Linked DNA regions of Homo sapiens. The protein of the gene in region 1 purifies or fractionates together with the protein of each later gene. This does not show direct contact. Each region holds a gene or a part of one and is shown on either strand. Other genes may lie near its edges.

The links. The genes of interacting proteins can lie anywhere in the genome.
Region 2: the proteins of A1BG (region 1) and PSME4 purify together in Homo sapiens (affinity purification with mass spectrometry; 2 studies listed by BioGRID and IntAct, with this or other methods). This does not show direct contact.

What each region holds. Positions count from the first base shown.
Region 1 is NC_000019.10:58,346,767-58,350,515, reverse strand, and holds part of A1BG (alpha-1B-glycoprotein precursor), read left to right. Parts: coding exon 1-146; intron 147-2,875; coding exon 2,876-3,163; intron 3,164-3,486; coding exon 3,487-3,494; 3' UTR 3,495-3,749.
Region 2 is NC_000002.12:53,894,358-53,898,106, reverse strand, and holds part of PSME4 (proteasome activator complex subunit 4), read left to right. Parts: intron 1-107; coding exon 108-237; intron 238-1,221; coding exon 1,222-1,303; intron 1,304-2,370; coding exon 2,371-2,524; intron 2,525-3,030; coding exon 3,031-3,100; intron 3,101-3,749. UniProt on the Homo sapiens protein: Associated component of the proteasome that specifically recognizes acetylated histones and promotes ATP- and ubiquitin-independent degradation of core histones during spermatogenesis and DNA damage response.

The sequences.
Region 1 (3,749 bases):
CCAGAGCCCCGCTGGGACCGAGGCGCTCTTCGAGCTGCACAACATTTCCGTGGCTGACTCCGCCAACTACAGCTGCGTCTACGTGGACCTGAAGCCGCCTTTCGGGGGCTCCGCGCCCAGCGAGCGCTTGGAGCTGCACGTGGACGGTGAGCTGGCGGGGCACCAGCGAGGGCGGGCGCGGGTTCAGTGCCCCTCGGGGCCTCCTGTCTTTCCCCTCTTTCCTTGGGCGTCCGACGGCGGCGCTCTGGGCCTTGGTTCAGCCCCCATCGCCTACCCCGGCGGGGAGCAGGCGATCGGTGGTCGAGGGTCTGGGGACGCCTGGAATTTCGGCTTATTTCCCACGGACGCAAGCCCGTAGGTCACGTGTAGCGTGGTGGTCGGCAGCAGGGAGGCTGGCCCCAGGTTTTCTTGTTCAGATCCCTGCAGCTCTGTGGCTGCCTTGTTTTATTACTGGCCATGTCAGTCGTCATACTGGACCCCCCGCCCCGGCCCCGGTCCCGCAGGCGCACGGCTGATGTGTCCTTCTCCCCATCCCCGCCGTCCCCAGCTCTGTTTGTCCCTCTGATTTCCTCATCGACGTCTCCAGGACTCAGAGCCCAGCAGAGCGTGAGGGCACAGGTCTGACCTCCAGATCTTGAGGTCGTACCCTTTGCTGGGAGCACCGTTTTCTCTTTTCTTTCACTTTCTTTCTTTTCTTTCCTGCCTTCCTTCCTCTTTCTTTCTTTCTCTTTCCTTCTTTCTTTCTTCCTTCCTTCTTTCTCTCTTTTCTTTCTTCTTTTTTCTTCTTTCTCTCTCTCTCATCTCTGCCCCCCAACCCCATCTCTCTCCTTCATTCCTCCCTTTTCTTCTCCTTTTTGTTTTTTTTTTGGATAACTTACTTTTATTCTTGCAGGCCGGAGTGCAGTGGTGCAGTCTCAGCTCACTGCAACTTTCGCCTTCTGGGTTCAGGCAGTTCTCCTGCCTCAGCCTCCTGAGTAGCTGGTATTAGAGGCGCATGCCACCATGCCCACCTAATTTTCGTATTTTTAGTAGAGACCGGGTTTTGCTATGTTGGCTGGGCTGGTCTTGACCTCCTGACCTTGTGATCTGCCCGCCTCTGCCTCCCAAAGTGCTGGGATTACACTTGTGAGTCACCATGCCCAGCCTATTCTTGCAGTGTTATAAGCCACCATCCACAATTGATGAAAAATGTTTAATCTTGGCCAGGCAAGGTGGCTCACGCCTGTAATCACAGCACTTTGGGAGGCCAAGGCGGGTGGATCACAAAATCAGGAGTTCAAGAGCAGCCTGGCCAACATGGAGAAACCCTGTCTCTACTAAAAATACAAAATTAGCCAGCTGTGGTGGCACATGCCTGTAATCCCAGCCACTTGGGAGGCTGAGGCAGGAGAATTGCTTTAACCCGGGAGGTGGAGTTTGCAGTGAGTCCAGGTCATGCCACTGCATTCCAGCCTGGGCAACAAGAGCAAAACTCCATCTCAAAAAAAAAAAAAATGTTTAATCTTTAAATTGTACATCTATATCCTATGACTCCAAATTTTATTTATCACTCTCCTTAAAGTCTGAAGAAAATGATTAATTTACTAAGCTCCAAAGACAACACAGTCCCACTGACATAACATTTAGTATGATGTCCTACTCTCCTGTTAGAATTAAGAACAGCCAGTATCAAACTGGCCTGAAATCTGATTGGGTTCCTGGGCTCAGAATAACTGTAGTAAATTTGTAAATCCACACTAAGACACAAAATTAAACTAGGATGTGTATATCTATCTTACAAGAAAACGTTTCACAGTAAAAATTAACATTATGATTTTACCAAATTTCAACATTATAGTTTGTTAATCCAATCAAGCTTTCAAAATTCCTGATTAGCTTACAATTAATTGCAAATAACTTCATGTAGTTTGGCTAGCATTTCAAAATGGATAGGGAATATAACTTTTAAAATGCGAAAGTATATTATACATATTGCACTTTTCTGCTAGGCTGGGCTAGTATCTTCCATGGCAAGATACTCAAACTATTGAATAAAATACACATTTAAATCAAGCACTTACATGTACTTCATTAATTTCCCTGAAATTATCAACAGCATTACCAAAATCTTCCAGGATTTTGTAACATTTGATTCCTTACAGTTTTGTTTTGTTTGTTTGTTTTTGAGACGGAGTGTCACTCTGTCACCCGGGCTGGAGTGCAGTGGCGCAATCTTGGCTCACTGAAACCTCTGCCTCCCAGGTTCAAGCAATTTTCCTGCCTCCACCTCCCGAGTAGCTGGGATTACAGGCGCACGCTGCCACGCCCGGCTAATTTTTTGTATTTTAGTAGAGACGGGGTTTCACCGTGTTACCCAGGCTGGTCTGGAACTCCTGAGCTCAGGCAATCCGCCTGCCTCGGCCTCTCAAAGTGCTGAGATTACAGGTGTGAGCCACTGCGCCCGGCACCTTAAATACACTTTTAAAGTTAAACTTATGGAGGGAAAACCCTCATCTATTGACATAGATTGTATGTCCTTTTTTGGTCCCTCCATGAAGGAGCACCGTTTTCTCCATCATTTCTTCTTCCCTTCACCCGTCAGAGTGACCGAGGCTGGGGACCCCAGAAGCCCCAGAGCAGGCCCGAATCTGGGACTTCCACGGTCCTGGGGGAGGGGTGCGGGGACACTCACGTGTGGCGCGGATGTCCGGGGTGTGAAGGCAGCGGGCGCAGCTCGGCGGCGCCGGAGGAGCCCTCTGCGCCCAGGAACAAGACAGGGAAGATGAAGCCGGGGCTGAGGCGCAGGCGCGGGCGCGGCCTGGGGTGTGGCCTGGGGTGTGGCCTGGGGCGTGGCCTGGGGCGTGGCCTGGCCCGACCACCCGCCCGCTCCGCCCAGGACCCCCTCCCAGGCCTCAGCTCCGGGCGACGTGGAGTGGGGCGGTCCTGGCGGGCCGAGATGCCGTCCTGCGCTGCGAGGGACCCATCCCCGACGTCACCTTCGAGCTGCTGCGCGAGGGCGAGACGAAGGCCGTGAAGACGGTCCGCACCCCCGGGGCCGCGGCGAACCTCGAGCTGATCTTCGTGGGGCCCCAGCACGCCGGCAACTACAGGTGCCGCTACCGCTCCTGGGTGCCCCACACCTTCGAATCGGAGCTCAGCGACCCTGTGGAGCTCCTGGTGGCAGGTGACGTTTCCCTGGGTCCCGGGTGCTGGTTCCGTCTGCTGATGTTTGCCTGGGCTGTGCCCACCTCCAGGAGGGCCTCTCCCGGCTCCTCCCTTGGGCACCCCTGGTTAGCGCTGGGTCTCCCCAGGGCTCGTGGGGGAATTGCGGGCGAGGAACCGCCCAGCAAAGGCCCTGCAGCTGGAGGCGCAGATGGGGGTCTCGGCTGGCAGCCGACCACGCGCTTCCTTCCGGGGGGGCGTCAGGGAGGTCGGCCTTGATTTCCGCGAGGAGGAGGGCATAGGATTTCCCCTCCTCCACCATTTCTCTTTTCTCCCGTTGTCTAGAAAGCTGATGCAGCCGCGGGCCCAGGGTGCTGTTGGTGTCCTCAGAAGTGCCGGGGATTCTGGACTGGCTCCCTCCCCTCCTGTTGCAGCACAAGGCCGGGGTCTCTGGGGGGCTGGAGAAGCCTCCCTCATTCCTCCCAGGAATTAATAAATGTGAAGAGAGGCTCTGTTTAAAATGTCTTTGGACTCCCAGGGCTGAGTGGGCTGGGATCTCGTGTCCTCAAAGTGGATGGGTTCTGGGGTGGCTCCTGAGGTAGAGGAGT
Region 2 (3,749 bases), on another chromosome or scaffold:
TATTTTAATTCTTGAGAAATTTAAAATTATAAGGTGTTTCACATACAGTTTTTTTTTTCCAAGTGGTTTTATGTGTGATATGCTTTGTTATTTTTCCTCCTTTTAAGGCCCTGGAAATTTGAACATATAGGCATTGGGCTTCTGTCTCTACTGCTGAGAGATGACCGAGTGTTGCCTCTTCGTGCCATACGGTTTTTTGTTGAGAATCTCAACCATGATGCAATTGTAGTTCGAAAGGTACATACCTTGTTTTAGCTACAGTCTTGGGTTTGAGAATATGTACGTGACCTGAAGTCTTTAAATTCTTCACAAGCAATACACACTTGGTTAATAAATATCTTGAAGTGTATTGATTTGAAATCTCCCCCTGTTGATTCAGAGATGATAATGATTCATCTAACAAATGAACATGTTTAGGCACTCTGTTTAAAAGACTGGGGATATAGCAGGAAATAAGTTTATAGGCTAATGGGAAAGATTTAACAATTAGAAAATTAGGTGTGCAGTGTGTTTCAGGAGGGGCAAGAAACTCGAGGGTATAGCTTTTTACTCTCCAAGTGTTAGAGGTGAGGTGGGGGTTGGGGAGATGGCCTAAGCTGAAGCATTGGAGAAAGACCTTTAAAAATACCCTGAGGCTGGGCAGGGCTTGGTGGCTCATGCCTGTAATCCCAGCACTTTGGGAGGCTGAGGCAGGTGGATCACCTGAGGTCAGGAGTTCAAGACCAGCCTGACCAACATGGAGAAACCCTGTCTCTACTAGAAGTACAAAATTAGCTGGGCATGGTGGCACACGCCTGTAATCCCACCTACTTGGGAGGCTGAGGCAGTAGAATCGCTTGAACCCGGGAGGGGGAGGTTGCAGTGAGCTGAGATTGTGCCATTGCACTACAGCCTGGGCAACAAGAGTGAAAACTCTGTCAAAAAAAAAAAAAAAAAAAACCCTGAGGCTAAGATTTGAAGAATGAGCAGGTATTGGTTTAACAAAGAAGGGGTCAAAGTTTTCTAGGCAGAGAGACTAGCATGTGTCAAGACTGTAGAGTAAGAACTGCCTATGATTCATTCTAAGTCAGATTTAGCACTCACATGGATGTACTGCCAGATGTCGATAGGCGAGGTGTTTTTTTAAAGAAACAGAATCCTATTTCTGCTTTGAGTAAAGCAGACAACCAGTTAAGTGATTTAAACTTTTTTTTATGAATGTGTACCTTTTTCCTTTTCTAGATGGCTATCTCAGCTGTTGCTGGTATCCTTAAACAGCTAAAAAGAACCCACAAAAAGCTGACCATTAACCCCTGTGAAATCAGTGAGTACTACCAGAAGTAATTAATAGTGCTTTCCAATAAAACTCAGAAAATTTTCTTGACATGTATAAATTCTAGTTCTTGACCTCAAATATTGTTCTATGGATATTAACACAAAATATAAATAATATTATGAAGGAAACAGTTGACTTAGTAAAAGCTAGTGATAACTATTTACAAAAATAGATTGACTCTTTCTGCCTTCATATTTATCTCACCTACTAAGCAATTATACTAATTATTTTATCAACTGTATTTCAAAGACTTAAATTGCTGTTATTAATTTGTTAAATGTTTCTCTTTGGGTGGTGGGATTAGGGACAAGGTGAATTTTCTTCCTCATACCTTATTGTATTACCAGAATTTTTCAGAAGAAAAAACCATTTTTTTCTGGTCTCCAATCCAGGATTAAAACATTGCATTTAAATTGTATGGTATCTTTAGTTTCCTTTAATGCAATGTTTAATCCTGGATTGGATTATAGTCCAGAAGAAAATGTTTTAATTTTTTTCATATAAAGTACATTCAGTGGGACAACTGTCAAAATTTGAGTAAAGTCTGTTGATGAAATAATTTTACTGTATTAATGAAAGCTTTTTTGAGAATTGTATTTTGATTATTTGAGATGATGTCTACAGTTTATACTCATAGTTTAGATAAGTATGTGTGGAGAGAGAGAGAATATCAAAGTATGCATGGTAAAATGTCAAAATTTGGGTGTCTCAGTAAAAGATGTGGGAATTTTTTGAGCTCTGTAAGTCTGAAATTATTATTTCAAATCTAAATAGTTTAAACAAAATTAATCCTTTTAATTTTGGTAAAAGGAATGAAGTGTGTTTCATACTTGATCTCTCCCCCAAAATAACTGATTCAACACAATTTAGTAGATAATGCCATCTACTCTGTTTTGAAATGTGCCTCCAATTGCTCATATATATGTTATCTTAATGTTATTTTTGTAGTGTTGTTTTGTGAAGACAAAGTTATGCTGGTACTGTTGATTGAAATTTGGTAATAATTGTTGGGCGAATATTTTTAAATTCATCAAATGTGATTGTCTTTTCCTTAGGTGGATGCCCTAAACCCACCCAAATTATTGCTGGTGATAGGCCTGATAATCATTGGTTGCATTATGACAGCAAAACTATACCAAGAACTAAAAAAGAATGGGAGTCAAGTTGCTTTGTGGAAAAAACTCACTGGGGATACTACACCTGGCCAAAGTAAGTAACTTACTGTGCACCTTATCATTAAATGCCTTTGATATAACTGCTTTATCATATTTTGGTTTCTGGGGAGGTTCAGAGGCACTTGAAGGTTCTTTTATCTTTCCCCTTCCCTAGTCCTCTCTTTCTTTTGCTCCTGCCAATGCTATGCCTCATTCCTGCCTCTTTCCTTGTGCAAAAACCCTTAGCCTTTCTGAATCCCATGGTTATATGGCTAAGGAGGTTATTAATAGCTGCTCTAAATTATATTCCTACCTATTAATAATACATATGCCTAAACCAGCCCAGAGAAATACATATTTTTCTCTCCTTATTTACTCCATTTGTCATTAGGACACAGTGATCTGATAGATTTTTAAGGCCTAGACTGTTACTGCTGTACTCATCTCCCCAAACTTAGCATCTAGTTAGAGTTCATTAAAAGTGCCTTCTAATGCTTTCTATCCATGAAGCTCTAATATTTTTTTCTATGCGTATGATAAATATGAACTCTTACTATATAGGAATATGGTTGTTTATGCTGGTGTGGAAGAGCAGCCTAAGCTTGGCAGAAGCAGGGAGGATATGACAGAGGTAAGCATTCCATTTCACCATGGTTCAAATGCATCTTGTTTTGGGCCACTGATTTATCTCAACCTCACTTCAGTTCTTCTTCTTCTTTTTTTTCTTAATACAATTTGTGTTTTTCTGTATAGCACTGCATAAATATTGGTGACTATGTAATCCATTCTCCTCAACCCCTTCATACTAGTGCCAGTTGACATAGATGTTGATGTATCTAAGACTGAGTTACTACCCCATTCAGCCCTCCGTTGGCTACTGCTTTATGTAATTTGCTGCTCATTTCTTGTATCAGTTCTGATACAAGCGTTTTGAAGGAAAAGTTAATGACTGATTTTTAGTTTTCTATTGCATATAAATTATGGGATCTCCGTAAATGCATGTTGGTAGATTTCAGTTAAAACTCCTTAAACTTCATTTAATTTACTTCACTTTGAAAGTTGACTTGGCTGGGAGCCATGGCACATGCCTGTAATCCCAACACTTTGGAAGTCTGAGGCAGGTAGATCACTTGAGCCCAGGAGTTTGAGACCATCCTGAGCAACATGGCAAAACCTTGTCTCTACAAAAAATACAAAAATCAGCTGGGCGTAGTGGTGCACACCTGTAGTCCCAGCTACTTGGGAGGCTAAGGTGGGAAAATTACCCGACCCGAGGAAGG